Regions from separate parts of the Homo sapiens genome. Here region 1 is linked to region 2. The links come from fine-mapping of genetic effects on gene expression. A gene starts in region 2. The other region holds a variant in brackets. All regions are shown on one strand. Distances are between the middles of the regions. Region 1 holds the start of GSTM5 (glutathione S-transferase mu 5). Region 2 holds the start of GSTM3 (glutathione S-transferase mu 3).

Region 1 (8,334 bases), 30 kb after region 2:
GAATTGAATTTCCACCGTGGGATGCCTGGATCGTGTCCTAAGATTGGTGGGAATTGCCTCTGCTTTTGTTGACATGACATTGGAGTCGTGAGAATAACTGCTGATAGTATGGGAAAGCACTTGGAGGATGAGTGGTACCAAGGACTTAAGAAAAGACCAGTGCGTGCAGGAATGCAAGAGTCCTGGCCCCAAATCCAAACTCTGCCAGGTGCAGCTCACTGGGGAGACTCACAAACTCTGGGTGGTAGCAGATCATGACCAGTTGCATCCAGTTGTCCGTGGTCTGGTTCTCCAAAATGTCCACAAGAATCTTCAGAAGAGGAGAAGATTCGTGTGGACATTTTGGAGAACCAGGTTATAGACGTCTCCAGTCAGCTGGCCGGAGTCTGCTACAGACCTGACTTTGGAAGTCCCTCCCTGGTCTGGGCCAAAAGGCAGGGAAATGGGTGACTGGGAGTGGGGTGTGGGACTCACAAAATCTGGGTCATAGCACAGTCTGACCAGCTCCATGTGGTTATCCATAACCTGGTTCTCCAAAATGTCCACACGAATCTTCTCCTCTTCTGTCTCCCCACCTGCCACCCACAAAACACAGACTCAATCTCAGCATCACAGCCCAGCCAAGGAGGAGGTCACCTTCCCCCCGCACATTGCAGCCACCCACACTCACACAGGTTGTGCTTGCGGGCAATGTAGCGCAGGATGGCATTGCTCTGGGTGATCTTGTGAGCCCCATCAATCAAGTAGGGCAGCTGGATAGATGGGAAACCGGGGAAGCTCAGTTGGGCCACCAGGCTCCCCAGCATCCCCTTCCCATATGCAAGGGCAGAGAGGAGACCAGGGCCTGCTCATGGCAGGCCTGAGATAGAAATACTGTCACACTAATAAATGAGCTGGGACACAGAACATCATGCAAGGGCTGTGTAGACAGCCAAGAGTGAGAGGAATTGGGCAGAAGACTCCTGATCTTAACACCTCTAAGGTGGGGAGAGGAGATGCAGTCAGAGACACGTCGCACTTTCCCCCAAAACCGCCCCTTCCCCTGCACCTACATTGGGAAAGTCCAGGCCCAGCTTGAATTTTTCATTCAGCCACTGGCTTCTGTCATAGTCAGGAGCTGTGGTGGGGAAGAAGTGAAAACAAACCTCCCCAGAGCCCAGCCCTCCTTCCCGGGGACCCTCCCAAGGAGCCAGTGGCAAGATCCCTGAGACAGGTGGATCTAGAATCTGACCACTCAGTCCCACATCCCAGGGTTCAGGGAGAAAGAATCCCACTGAGGGCTCTGGACCCCACAACGGCTAAGGCTTCCAGGGTTTAGGGAAGCTCTGAGGGACACCCAACCCAATTAGACAGGGTGTCCAGCATCCCGCCCCAGCATTCTGCCTTGCAAGGCCAGAGGGCTCACTCACGGGAGCTCAGGGAAGGGACAGCCTGCAGCTCCAGCAGGGGAGGCCTGCAGAGGCAGCCACAGGTGGCCACCATGGGTTGCTTGGTGCCAACTCAGCGTGAGTGGGCAGGGCCCGGACACGAGGGTGCCATTACCGTCCCCCAGCGTGTACTTCTTTTCCACATAGCTTGAGTCTGTGTATTCCAGGAGCAAGCGGATGGCGTGGGCCAGCTGGGAGAGATGGCCCGCGGCTCGGGTCAGAGATGGAGGGTCCCTGACTTGGTGACTTTCTCTGCACCAGGCCAGCCCCTAGTCTATACTGCACGTACCCGTCGCCTCCTCTACCCGCCCCCACCCCCAAACACACACACAGCGTCATGCACAGGCCCTTCTGAGGCGGGCAGCCCTGAAGAGGAACGGTCCCTAGAGCCAGTCCTGCAGCTACTCCACACATCCCCGCCTCCGCCCCCTGTCCCACCCACCAGAGGACCCTCGCTTACCCCACGGATGTCCCAGTACCCCAGAGTCATGGGCATGGTGCTGGTTGGTGCGGATTCTGCAGACAGGCATCAGCGGAGCGGGGCTCAGACTTTGAGAGGCCCAGGAGGGGACAGGCGGGGCCTTGCTGCGACCCCGCCCCTCGGCCCGCCACAACCCCGAAACACGCCATTCTGTAGGCCCCCGAGCGAGCGCCCGGGGCTGGAATCAATAAGCCCCCTCCCGCCTCCCAGTCCCCAGGGTTCCGGGAGCGAGGTCAGGGCGCCCAGAAGCCCAAAGCGGGGCTCGGCCTCGCCAGCTTCCCCAACCCGCCCTGAGGCTCCATGAGTCCATCCAGCCCTTGCTAGGTCCACAGCGACTTGGCTGTGCGCTTGAGACACCAGCCAGATCCTAACGGAGCAAAGCTCTTCTCCCTTCTCCTCCCTGCCCGCAGAATCCCTCAGCCTTCTCTCCGCTGCCGAGTTCCCAAGGGCTCTGGGAGACTCCGGCTGCAGGGGTCAGACTAAAAAGTGGTGGTCCCAACCTGGGAATTTAATTCAGCCCCTGTCACTGTAAGAGCAGGACTTCCTCTGATCCGAAAGCTACTCCGAGGGCTTAGTCTCCCCTCTAGCCCCGCCTACACAGGAACAGTGTCAGTGGTATAGGAAGGACCCCCAGGAAAAGGGCCAGAGTAAAGGAAATGTGGTCTGTGTTTTCTGTTAGGGGCCTTTGGATACTGAGTCCTTCGGTCATCTGGCTAAGTACTATGTAAATTAGCCACTTCGTATTTTGGCACAATTTATGAATCGAAATCCAAGGATCAGATCCAGCAAGTTGGTGAGGTATCTGAGGTGCCCCCTAGAAATGTCCAGCCAGTCCACTAGGTGAACCTCACAGAGACCGGAACAGCAACAGCAACAGTGAGTGCAGTGGCCACAGAGAGCAGGCGAGGGAGGATGGAAGAACTTCCCGGACCAAACTGAGGGTCCGGCTGCTATTTCTCTAGGCCCAATAACGAGATGCAGATCAAATGGGGAGGAAGAGAGGTTTTATTTCTGCAACCAGTTACAGGGAGAAGGCCTGGAAATTACTACCAGACCAACTCAAAATTAAAGTTTTCCAGAGCATATATACCTTCTAAGGTATATGTCTACAAGTAAGTGTGCATTCATCTAAAGACATAAGTGATTAACTTCTTTAATCTGTAACTGAGGTCTGGGTCCTGAGGACCTTACTCTGGAGCCTCAGTCTATTTACTTAATCTAAATGGGTCCAGGTGCGGGGGATGATTGCCCTTATCTTGTCTCCTGCTAAATCATGGAGGTTTGGGGAGTTCCTTCAGATGCCCAGTAAACTTGTTTGTGGAGGCCTGGGGAGTTTCTTCAGACTCACAATAAAACTTGTTTAATTCTAAATAGGTCCTGTTAAGAATTCCTTCGTTGTTTTGTCATGCTTTAAGGCCCAGGAAAGGCCTAAGCAAAACTCTTGGTGGGCTTTTGTTACATCCAGCCTCTGTATAAAGGTACTGGCTTTTTTCAGCTTTTAATATTTAATTTCATCACTCAGTCAGTACTGAAACAGTTGTTATGGAGGCCTGTGTTAGTGACACCTGGTCTGCCACAGAACCTGTCCCTCAGAGAAGCCAGAACCCTGTCCTGCTGAGGAGGGAGGTCAGAGGATGGTGGCCAGAGAGGAGCCTGAGGGCTCCCCACAGGATCACAGGCAGGGACTCTCCCCTCTCCAGATCCACCATGCCGGACCTGGACCTGGCTCCTGACCCATGTGTGTTCTTCAGTATGAGACGGTGGCTCCAGTGGCCTTTGAAGTCACACCGTGATATGTGACCCATGGTACAACCTCCGC[A/G]AGAACAATGTCCAACCTGCCAACTTTCTTCTTTCAAGGTAGAAGGAAGACTTTCAAAAGAGTTGTGCAATGGATTAGCCTGGGGTTGACTGCTTTTTTTAAAGGATATTACAAATAATAATGGATATATGGAAATAGATGATAGACCTTTAATGAGAAATCATTTTGCAATGTAAACCAGGCTGTTGTGCTGCAAAAAAAGTAGTTTTTTGTTTTTTGTTTTTGTTTTTGTTTTTTTGTAAATTAGCTAAAACATTGTTAGGACTCCAGAGGATGAACCCAGTATATCAAAAAAGTTTCAAACCACCTGGATAATGTGTGGTTTGGGGTTGAGTAAACAGGTAGACTTCATCACATCCCTATTAGGCCACAGAAATCAGGTGGTCAGCAGGTGGCTGCTAAGTTGGGGCACTTGGACACTGTGTCACTGAGGCTGGCAAGGCACAGTCCTTGTTGCAAACACTCCCCACCCATCCAGACCTGGGCAGTACTCCCAGCTCAGATACCTGGCAGGTATCCATGTTTAGGAAGCAGTTTTGGCCTCACAGTGAATTCTCACATAGATTTTCCTGCATTGAGGCAATAGCACCAGCACAGACACAAGTGCCTGGCCCTAGGAATCATTATATTTCTCATTATGCATTAAGAGTTTATGATTTTGAGTTAATGGGTCTTGAGCTGTGAAAGATAAGATGTCTAGATCCAATTGATAAAAACGATTTTTTAAGAAAGCTAACACTCATGAGAATAATAATTTTGAAACACATAGAACCAGTACTGTTACATTAGTATTGTTTGAAATACTTGTTCCTTGGTTCCATAAAGAAATAGCACTTGAACATAAATTTAATTTCCTCAGCAAGGCTATCGGGGAAACTGCCCCCAGTATTTCAACATAGGTTCTATTTTCCATAAGTGTCAGCTGGCTGAGAAATAAAGAGAAAGAGTACAAAGAGAGGAATTTTACAGCTGGGCCGCCAGGGGTGACATCACATATCAGTAGGACCGTGATGCCGGCCCGAGCCTCAAAACCAGCAAGCTTTTATTAAGGATTGCAAAAGGGGAGGGGGTGTACGAACGGGGGGTAGGTACAAAGATCACATGCTTTAAGGGGCAAAAAACAGAACAGAGATCACATGCTTCTGAGGAAACAGGACAAGGGCAAAAGTAGAACTCCTGATAAGGGTCTATGTTCAGCAGTGCACGTATTGTCTTGATAAACATCTTAAACAACAGAACACAGGGTTCAAGAGCAGAGAACCAGTCTGACCACAGATTTGCCAGGGCCAGGTTTTTCCCCACCCTAGTAAGCCTGAGGGTACTGCAGGAGACCAGGGTGTACTTCAGTCCTTGTCTCAACTGCATAGGACAGACATTCCCAGAGCGGCCGTTTATAGACCTCCCCCCAGGAATGCATTCCTTTCCCAGAGTATTAATAGTAATATTCCTTGCTAGGAAAAGAATTTAGCAATATCTTCCCTACTTCCATGTCCATTTATAGGCTCCCTGCAAGAAGAAAAATATGGCTCTATTTTGCCTGACCCTGCACGCAGTCAGACCTTATGGTTGTCTTCTCTTGTTGCCTAAAAATCACTGTTATTCTGTTCTTCTTCAAGGTGCACTGATTTCATATTGTGCAAACACACATGTTTTACAATCAATTTGTACAGTTAACACAATTATCACAGTGGTCCTGAGGTGACATATATCCTCAGCTTATGAAGATAACAGGATTAAGAGATTAAAGTAAGACAGGCGTAAGAAATGTAAAAAGTAATAATTTGGGAACTGATAAATGTCCATATTAAAATGAAATATTTGCAATTTATGTTCCTCTGCCGCGGCTCCAGTCAGTCCCTCCATTCGGGGTCCCTGACTTCCCGCAACATCTCTCCCTTTCTTTTTATATAAATGTGCCATGGTGATGAAGGCTTATTCGTTCTCTCGGTTTTGACACAGGATTCTTTGGCTGGTCCGGCACACAGTATCCAGATTCCTTCTCGAGCTCCAACCAACATTACACTTTTCCTGGAGTCAAAACGGGAGTCAACACAAGTGTATAAATGACAATGCATTGGACAGTTTGATTGTTTGTCCAAATTTTGATATTTGCCACTAACAGCATGTAAGGAAGCTTAACACAACTCTGTATAGGAATAGTCAGGTTGGAGGTAAACAAAGCAGAATGCTTGAATCTATGTTGATACTGAGGGAGAGGAGCGGCGGTGGCAATGCCCGATGTTCTCCACCATAAAGAAGCAAACCGAGGTGCCTGGGGATGCTGAAGAAGTAGAGGGGCATACCTGGGTCGATAAGAATTATCGTAATGCCAATTGGAGTCCCGTAAAGGAGGATCGGCATCAAAAAGAGGAAAAAGGTTCAAAGGGGATTTATCATGGGGTTCAGAATCACAGATACTGGCAGTCCAGACATGACAATAGCCAATTTCGAAAGTTCTGGGTGTTCTGGGCTCAGAATGGGGAATATCATACAAGGCCTTGGGGGTGGAGGGTAATGTCCTTATCTTCCCATTTTAAGGTAAAGAATGAGCCGAACCACCTATGCAAAGTAGGATGATGATCCTCGTCCTCCCAATAAGAAATAAAATAAGTAGCCTCCAGGAATTCCCCTCCCCCAGAGGAGCAAGTGTTTTTTAAATAGCCCTTTGGTGCCCAGTCTATTACTAAAGCATATGAGTCATTTTTTAATACTACTGCATGTGAGTTAACACAATCTCCCCAAATTAAAGTTTTAGATGGGCCCTCAAAATTTTTAGGACATAGTTTTCCTACAGGTTTATATTGAAAGTATGGGGTATCTCCTATTACTCCCCTTTTCATTTGTCTTAAAGGACAAAGGGAGAGGCCGGAGACCAAATGTCCCCATTTTCCTGTAGCTAATCTCTCCAGAAGATAAGCAGCCCAGACTTGAGTTTCTAGATGGATACAACGAGTTGCATGTCCGAGGCACAGAGGAGGGTATTTATAACCCATAGTAACATTAAATGCAGTGCCTTCTTCTCCTGGTTGAGCAGGGCAATGGTCATCTATAGCTCCAGGCATCTACACACTATCGTTAGTGTAGATTTCCGCAGGAGCATTCATCCAGGTGAGAGGTCGAATAAGTGGAGGAAAAGGCACATAAGCCCAATAAGAATAATTTTGTGTAGCAGGCAAATCAGTGTGAGGGGAAACTGGTGAGACAGAAAGTATAAGGAGTAGAATTATTAAATAAAACCTATTGTAAGCGAGATCCAGTGCTGAAGGAGGAAGAGAAGAACAGAGGGATGTTATTTTCAGGCTAATAGAAATGGTGAGATTTTCAGGTTTGTAAGGAGAAAAAGAAAGGTAATTAGGAGAAGTGGGATTAGTTAGAGGGGTCTCTGTTGCCATTAGGGAGGATTGAATGAGATCCATTTTGATTTGGTGTGCCAGTTTTTGAGGAGTTGGCACAGATCTCACCAGGTATGAGGGCAGTCTCTGACGTGGACATCTCTTCCCTGTGTTTTTCATTGTCAGTATTCACACGAAGTTAAAGTCTTCTAGTGGGCACCCAGACAGGGGATTGATGATCTCCTGGTGAAACACAAGCATACCCTCTTCCCCACATTATAATTGTTCCAGGTTCCCAGGTATTTGTCTGGGAGTTTTTCCATAACACTGGCTTGCTTTCATTTAGGGAGAATTTTTTGCCTGTATAATGGTGTTCGGCTGCAGTCAGAGTATTGTCTTTAGGAACATTTAGAAAGTTTAAAGTAAACAATGCTAAATGGAATTGGGAGTGGGGAGTGGTTAAATTATGCTTTTAAACCATAAAGGAATTTAGTAATTCCTTCATGTTTTGGACCGAGACTGAGTCCAGGAACAGTCCCCACGTTTTCCATTATATGTTGACTGGGAGCACGAGAAGAGTTATGTGGAATATTAATTTCAGCCCCCCATTGTTCCAGCAAATATCTACCCCAAAGATTAATGGGGATTGGCATGATATAAGGCTGAATTGTTCCCTTTTGACCATCAGGCCCAGTGCAAGGCAAGATAAATGTGCTTTGGTGAACTTCATCAGCTTTTCCAACCCTTACTAGTCCCATGTTAGTGGGATGTTTAAGCCAGGAAGAAGGCCATAAATTAGAGGAAATAATAGAAACATCAGCCCCAGTATCTACTAGGCCCTCAAACTTTTTTCCTTTAATATGTATGGTGCAGGTGGGCTGTTGTTTAGAAATTACTTTAATCCAATAAGCGGCTTTTTCACCGCCAGAGCCCATCCCAGGGCCCCCTGTCTTATCTCCTTTGTTTAAAACAATATTAGGTAGTAAAAGTAGTTGAGCAATTGACTCACTGGCCGGAATGGAAACAGGAACCTTGGCAGACACGATTATTTTAATCTCATCAGAGGAATCAGAATTAATGAGACCAGTATGAACTATGATACCTTTAGCAGAGGTGGATGCCCTACCTAACACCAGGCCCACCAAACCTTGAGGTAAAGGGCCAGTGGCCCCCGTGGGGACAATTAAAGGCAAAGAATTCGGTAGTAAATTTAGAGGAGTGGTACTACAGAGATTGACCGCCCTGCCCCCTACTGTGGAGGTAGACAAGCATTGT
Region 2 (8,334 bases):
TGTATATCTAGAAAACCCCATTGTCTCAGCCCAAAATCTCCTTAAGCTGATAAGCAACTTCAGCAAAGTCTCAGGATACAACATCAATGTACAAAAATCACAAGCATTCTTATACACCAATAACAGACAAACAGAGAGCCAAATCATGAGTGAACTCCCATTCACAATTGCTTCAAAGAGAATAAAATACCTAGGAATCCAACTTACAAGGGATGTGAAGGACCTCTTCAAGGAGAACTACAAACCACTGCTCAAGGAAATAAAAGAGGATACAAACAAATGGAAGAACATTCCATGCTCATGGGTAGGAAGAATCAATATCATGAAAATGGCCATACTGCCCAAGGTAATTTACAGATTCAATGCCATCCCCATCAAGCTACCAATGACTTTCTTCACAGAATTGGAAAAAACTACTTTAAAGTTCATATGGAACCAAAAAAGAGCCCGCATTGCCAAGTCAATCCTAAGCCAAAAGAACAACGCCAGAGGCATCATGCTACCTGACTTCAAACTATACTACAAGGCTACAGTAACCAAAGCAGCATGGTACTGGTACCAAAACAGAGATATAGATCAATGGAACAGAACAGAGCCCTCAGAAATAATGCCACATATGTACAACCATCTGATCTTTGACAAACCTGACAAAAACAAGCAATGGGGAAAGGATTCCCTATTTAATAAATGGTACTGGGAAAACTGGCTAGCCATATGTAGAAAGCTGAAACTGGATCCCTTCCTTACACCTTATACAAAAATTAATTCAAGATGGATTAAAGACTTACATGTTAGACCTAAAACCATAAAAACCCTAGAAGAAAACCTAGGCAATACCATTCTGGACATAGGCATGGGCAAAGACTTCATGTCTAAAACACCAAAAGCAATGGCAACAAAAGCCAAAATTGACAAATGGGATCTAATTAAACTAAAGAGCTTCTCCACAGCAAAAGAAACTACCATCAGAGTGAACACGCAACCTACAAAATGGGAGAAAATTTTCACAACCTACTCATCTGACAAAGGGCTAATATCCAGAATCTACAATGAACTCAAACAAATTTACAAGAAAAAAACAAACAACCCCATCAAAAAGTGGGCAAAGGATATGAACAGACACTTCTCAAAAGAAGACATTTATGCAGCCAAAAAACACATGAAAAAATGCTCACCATCACTGGCCATCAGAGAAATGCAAATCAAAACCACAATGAGTTACCATCTCACACCAGTTAGAATGGCAATCATTAAAAAGTCAGGAAACGAGGTGCTGGAGAGGATGTGGAGAAATAGGAACACTTTTACACTTTTGGTGGGACTGTAAACTAGTTCAACATTGTGGAAGTCAGTGTGGCGATTCCTCAGGGATCTAGAACTAGAAATACCATTTGACCCAGCCATCCCATTACTGGGTATATACCCAAAGGATTATAAATCATGCTGCTATAAAGACACATGCACACGTATGTTTATTGCGGCACTATTCACAATAGCAAAGACTTGGAACCAACCCAAATGTCCAACAACGATAGACTGGATTAAGAAAACATGGCACATATACACCATGGAATACTATCCAGCCATAAAAAATGATGAGTTCATGTCCTTTGTAGGGACATGGATGAAACTGGAAACCATCATTCTCAGCAAACTATCGCAAGGACAAAAAACCAAACACCGCATGTTCTCACTCATAGGTGGGAACTGAACAATGAGAACACATGGACACAGGAAGGGGAACATCACACTCCAGGGACTGTTGTGGGGTGGGGGGAGGGGGGAGGGATAGCATTAGGAGATATACCTAGTGTTAAATGAGGAGTTAATGGGTGCAGCACACCAACATGGCACATGTATACATATGTAACAAACCTGCACATTGTGCACATATACCCTGAAACTTAAAGTGTAATAATAATAAAATTTAAAAAAAAGAAAGTAATGCAAAAACTGCAAAAAAAAAAAAAGAAAAAGAAAAGAAAATGGGCATAACACCTACTTCCTAAAGTTGTTGTGAAGCTTAAATTGGAATAAATTAGCTAACATACGTAAACACTTAGATATTGCCTGGCATATGATAGGTGCTCAATAAATGTTAATCTTATACCTCAGGTGAATTTGTGACTGGCCTTTTGCTTTCTTGGGAGGAGAGACACAGGCATTATAAATTTCACCTGTCCATGTGGTTTGTACTCTTCCTTTCTTCTGTTTAGCAAAATGCCCTTTTAAAAAGTCCCAACCTTGCTTCAGTTGAACTGATGGGCAAATGTGATTTCCCACACCTGAGCTAGGGGATCTAGGCTCTCAGACTGCCCTGAGAGCTGTGCTGCAGAGGCCTGGCCAGAACCCTCAGAGCAGCTCCGGACTCCTTCCTCTGTCACTCCTCCACATTCAACTAGAATCCTATGTCTCCCGAGTTGACCCTGTTGCAAATCTGTGCCCCTTTTCATTTGCATGGGCCCTGCCGAAATTCAGAAGCTTAGTTCTTCCCATGACTATAGGGGCCTCGGGCAGGTCTCTTGCTCTGTCAAGGTCAAAACCCCTACTTTCCTAAATTCAACCATTGATTCTCCATCTTCATCTTACTTGATCAGCCACACTTGACATAGTTGATCACTTCTCCCTTTAAACATCTTCACATGGCTTCTGGGACCTTTTGTTTTCCTCCTACCTCCCTGGCCACTCCTTTTCAGACTCCTTTGCTGGTTTGCTCTCATTTTTCCCTAACCTTTACATGTTGATATGCCAGAGCACCTCAAACCCTTAGACCTCATCTCTGCTACTCGTGCTCCCATGGTGATCTCATCTAGTCTCTGGTTTCAAACACAGAGTGATCACTCCTGTACTTGCTGTTTCCCTTTTCCTGGAGTTCTCTCTGCCTCCTGCAGGTAGGAAGTGATTCGAGATAAGAGAGGGAGAGAACTCTTCTGGCCAGGATAGAGGGTGATTCTGAGAAGGCTTCAAGGAAGAAGTGAGCATTTGAGCACGGCTACTTGAGGAAGGCTAGGCCATGGACATTAGGGTGCAGGCAGGAGCAGAGCAAACATGCTTGTAAAAGGAACAGCAATTATTCTGTTTTATATTTATATCAGCCCATGGTGGCCCCCACAGCAGAGTGGCTTGATCTCTCACCTCCTTCAGGTCTTTGTTTAAAGATTAACTTCTCCATGAGGCCTTCTATGAACATAACCTTTAAAAACATAAATCCCCTTCCTACTGGGACTCCCCCAGTTCCCACCCTGAGACCCCCTATCTCTCTTCTCGATTTTATTTCTCTCCATAGGATGTGTATCACCACCTGACTTACTAGCTATTTACTATATATTAGTTTATTTCTTCCCCATTAGAATGTAAACTTCCTGAGGGCAGGGATTTTGTCTGTTGAGTTCAGTTCTGTATCCCCAGCACCTAAAACAGTGCCTGTCCATAACAGGCATGTTAAACATTGTTGGACAGATGAATGAGTGAATGAAAAATGGTAGTACCTTTCCTCCTCCAGTCCATCCTACACAAAGAGGCAAGATTAATTTCCCTAAATGCGTGAGCATTAGGAAGTGGGAGGGATTGGAGGAGGAAATTATAATAAGGAATCCATAAATTACTTAAGCCCATAAAACAAAGGTAGGAAACATTCAAGATAAGAGACCTCTTCTGGCCAGGATAGAGGTTGGTTCTGAGAAGGCTTCAAGGAATAGGCAGACATTTCAGCAAGGCTGCTGAGGAAGGATAGGCTGTGGAAATTAGGATGCAGGTAGGAGGATCACAGAGCAAACACTCCAAGGTGGGAAATGCAAGTGTGTGTAGAAGGAACAGCAAGTATTGTTGGGTTGGGCTGGCTTATGAAGTTGTGACGGGCTGAGGGAGAGACAGGACTGGAAAAGCACGTTGGGGTCAGGTTGCAGAGGTCCTTGACTGACAGAGAGGGGAGCTTGGTCTGTGGGGAATCTTCTGCTCTGTGTGGTCAGAGGCTGGTCTGACTCTCCGGCCTTGCCCCAGTCTTCCTATCCTTCATCCAGCCCCGGCTGGCTCGGTAAAAACGGCGCGAATCTCGCTCTCCCTGGGTAACTAGGGTCCCCACTGCCTGGCTAGTGGTGCTTTTCGCGTCTTCACTGGCACCATTAATGAATGAAGTCTGGCTCCCACCCGCGGGGAAGGGAGGAGCCTCAACCTCGGGTCCTTTGCTCTCCTGCAGCACTCCTGCCCGGGTCCCGCCTCGGGGTCGCCAGGCCCTGAACCCCAACGCCGGCATTAGTCGCGCCTGCGCACGGCCCTGTGGAGCCGCGGAGGCAAGGGACGGAGAACGGGGCGGAGGCGGAGTCAGGGCGCCCGCGCGTGGGCCCCGCCCCCTTATGTCGGGTATAAAGCCCCTCCCGCTCACAGTTTCCCTAGTCCTCGAAGGCTCGGAAGCCCGTCACCATGTCGTGCGAGTCGTCTATGGTTCTCGGGTACTGGGATATTCGTGGGGTGAGTGCCGTCTCAACGGTAGAGCCGCTCGGTCAAAGAGACTGACGCGGAGAGGGCGGGTCTCTGGGTCCGCGATCTCCAGCAGGAGCAGCTCTACGCGGGAGCCTTTTCGAGCTGCCGAGCCACGGATGTCGACCCCTGCCCAGCCTCTGGGATCGCGGGCCCTGTGGGGAGGGGCGGAGGAGACCACGCCGGAGCCGGGCCTAGGGGCCGCTTAACCACCGCCCCGGCAGGACGCAGGGACTCGGCAGCCCCGGGCCGGGGAACGTTAGCGGGCGGGGGTTGGGAATGGGTGGGAGCTGCGCAGTCGCTGAACCGCTGTCTTCCCCAGCTGGCGCACGCCATCCGCCTGCTCCTGGAGTTCACGGATACCTCTTATGAGGAGAAACGGTACACGTGCGGGGAAGGTAATGCCGCTCCGCGTGCCCGTGCAGCCAAGCTGGCCCTCCACCTGCCCTGGTCTTCTTACGCCCAGAGGGTGGTGGCGTCGCGCCAAGGCCGGGTGGGACGTTTGCCCCAATCTGGGTGAATAGAGACACATCCTTTATCTGGAACTGGGGGTTCTCTTTTTAACATAGCCCAAACCCGTCTTAATGCTTAACCAAATAGGGCTCAGAGGCTCAATGGTTATGCTTTTGGGGCCTGGGAATTTGAGGTATTGGGACCAAGTCATTTCTTTAGATCTTTTGCTCTTGTCAGGTGGGGTATTAAGGAGGTTGGGTCCCACTTAATTCCGTCTCTTACAGCTCCTGACTATGATCGAAGCCAATGGCTGGATGTGAAATTCAAGCTAGACCTGGACTTTCCTAATGTAAGTGGCTTTAGTAGAGGTGGCGGGCAGAAGGGAAAGCCTTCAAGTATATCCATCCTTGCCTCTCTCCTGCCTGGTACAGAAGGATGCAAAATAGGGGATCTTAACCCGGATAGAATAAATAGAATTCAGGGGTCCTTGAACTGGATGGATATGTATTTTCATTCCCATTAACCACTAGCAAAAGTTATTTCCTTTTATTGTGAAGAGAGACAATAAGTGACATTGGTTATTAGCCATGTCTGTCACTTTGTCACTAGTAGAAATCAGGTATTTTCTTTTTTGTGTGTTTCTTGTTCTTTTGTTTTGAGACAGTGTCTCACTCTGTCGCTCAGGCTGGAGTGCAGTGGCGCAATCACAGCTCACTGCAGCCTCAACCTCCCAGGCTCAAGCAGTCCTCCCACCTCAGCCTCCCAAGGAGCTGGGACTACAGGCACACACCACTATGCCCAGCTAATTTTTGTATTTTTGTAAGAGACGGGGTTTTGCCATGTTACCCAGGCTGATCCTGAACTTCTGGGCTCAAACAGTCCTCCCACCTCGGCCTTCCAAAGTGTTGGGATTACAGGCATGAGCCACTGTGCCCAGCCTGAAATCAGGTAGTTTCATATTCTATAACATGCGTTGCAGATATTTTAAGTGATATTTATATACATGTAAGTAAATATATACATATAATGTTATTTACTTTGAGATTATGTTAGTCATTACATCTGCTTGCTATTTAATGCACTAATAGGCACATGTTACTCTTATTTGAATTTTTAAAAATATTTTTTGATTGTGTAAATTATCTATTTTGCTTCATGCATTTAACAACTTTATTCTGAGAAAAGGTCCATGGCATGCACATACACTCACACATACACACACCAATTTAAGAACCCCTGTCTAGAATCTTGTGGACCCAGTTGCTACCTTCTACTTATTTTCTTTTTTCTCCTAACACAGCATCTTCTCACTCTTGTTCACTGCCCTGCAAGTGTTCTTTTCCCCTGGAGAGAGAGGTAGGGAATCAAGAGAGAGGCAGGTTGTTCATTTGTCCTGTCCTTTTCCTTTCAGCTGCCCTACCTCCTGGATGGGAAGAACAAGATCACCCAGAGCAATGCCATCTTGCGCTACATCGCTCGCAAGCACAACATGTGTGAGTGGGGTAGGGCTGGTGAGGGACCCCAGGCTGGTAGTTTGTCTGAGAGTGGATGATGCCAAGGGTGATTTGTTGTCATTTGGCCTACAGGTGGTGAGACTGAAGAAGAAAAGATTCGAGTGGACATCATAGAGAACCAAGTAATGGATTTCCGCACACAACTGATAAGGCTCTGTTACAGCTCTGACCACGTGAGTTTCCTTAGCACACATCTGCTGAATGGAGTATCAGAAAAAGGGGTATTTAGGAACCCAAGGGTTATCTCTGTTCCATTCTGCTGCTGCTACCTTCCCACCAATCCAGATTGTTAGAATAAGAAACAGAACTTATATTTTTTGGTTTGTTTTGTCATGTAATTCTGGTGCTGGTGCCTCTTCTTTCTAAACTCCTCTTTCCCCACCCTGCCATCCTCAAGTGAAGGCAATGAGAACCCACCTAGAGAAGGGGCTACTAAGTGTCCATCACTGGCCTGTGCCCTGATTAACTACAAAGATGATCACCACTATTCTCATTCTGTTTTTTCCTCTCAGGAAAAACTGAAGCCTCAGTACTTGGAAGAGCTACCTGGACAACTGAAACAATTCTCCATGTTTCTGGGGAAATTCTCATGGTTTGCCGGGGAAAAGGTAGGAAGAAGGGAAAAGAAGAGGATACTTCTCTATCTCTGCAGGCTACTACTCCTCAGACCTAAGCATCTTATTGCTTTTCTTCTAGCTCACCTTTGTGGATTTTCTCACCTATGATATCTTGGATCAGAACCGTATATTTGACCCCAAGTGCCTGGATGAGTTCCCAAACCTGAAGGCTTTCATGTGCCGTTTTGAGGTGACGTTTCCTGCACCTTTCTCTTATAAAAACACTCACAGGCTCCCCTGGGACCTGCAGGATCCCATAGTGGAGGATTCTTCCCCGGCTTTTGCCTAATGGGATCAATGGTTGGACACCTCTAGACCTTTAAGTCTTGGGAAGAGCCTAACTTCTATACCTTGGAGGCACTGTCTACAAAAAAATGGAGGAGGTAGACGCAGGCAACACGTGAATGTTGCTGTTCTGGTATGCATCTGTTGGACTGGGTTGGGGTCGTTATAAGATTTGGTGTATTTTCCTTTCAGGCTTTGGAGAAAATCGCTGCCTACTTACAGTCTGATCAGTTCTGCAAGATGCCCATCAACAACAAGATGGCCCAGTGGGGCAACAAGCCTGTATGCTGAGCAGGAGGCAGACTTGCAGAGCTTGTTTTGTTTCATCCTGTCCGTAAGGGGTCAGCGCTCTTGCTTTGCTCTTTTCAATGAATAGCACTTATGTTACTGGTGTCCAGCTGAGTTTCTCTTGGGTATAAAGGCTAAAAGGGAAAAAGGATATGTGGAGAATCATCAAGATATGAATTGAATCGCTGCGATACTGGCATTTCCCTACTCCCCAACTGAGTTCAAGGGCTGTAGGTTCATGCCCAAGCCCTGAGAGTGGGTACTAGAAAAAACGAGATTGCACAGTTGGAGAGAGCAGGTGTGTTAAATGGGACTGGAGTCCCTGTGAAGACTGGGTGAGGATAACACAAGTAAAACTGTGGTACTGATGGACTTAACCGGAGTTCGGAAACCGTCCTGTGTACACATGGGAGTTTAGTGTGATAAAGGCAGTATTTCAGACTGGTGGGCTAGCCAATAGAGTTGGGACAATTGCTTACTCATTAAAAATAATAGAGCCCCACTTGACACTATTCACTAAAATTAATCTGGAATTTAAGGCCCAACATTAAACACAAAGCTGTTGAAATATTGATGAAAATGTAAGAATTTTTGTGACCACGGGGTAGGAGAAGTTTCTTTAAAGACGTAAAAAGAAAAAAACCATAGGCTGCTCTGCCTGTGGAGTAGCCATTCTTTATTCTTTTACTTTTTAAAATAAT

What was found. PIP is the estimated chance that this variant, and not a neighbour inherited with it, causes the effect.
Region 1: its variant is fine-mapped to the expression of GSTM3 in sun-exposed skin (GTEx, PIP 0.96).

The regions. Positions count from the first base shown.
Region 1 is chr1:109,705,902-109,714,235 of GRCh38, reverse strand. GSTM5 (glutathione S-transferase mu 5) reads right to left here and starts at 1,985. Exons shown (of 8, transcript NM_000851.4): 1 at 1,888-1,985; 2 at 1,543-1,618; 3 at 1,053-1,117; 4 at 671-752; 5 at 475-575. The coding sequence starts at 1,923. The variant A/G (reference allele first, on the strand shown) is at 3,728.
Region 2 is chr1:109,736,373-109,744,706 of GRCh38, reverse strand. It overlaps GSTM3 (glutathione S-transferase mu 3), which reads left to right and starts at 3,669. Exons shown (of 9, transcript NM_000849.5): 1 at 3,669-3,754; 2 at 4,196-4,467; 3 at 4,799-4,874; 4 at 5,214-5,278; 5 at 6,341-6,422; 6 at 6,516-6,616; 7 at 6,956-7,051; 8 at 7,140-7,250; 9 at 7,538-8,334. The coding sequence starts at 4,420. The coding sequence ends at 7,636. RefSeq lists a silencer at 4,230-4,459.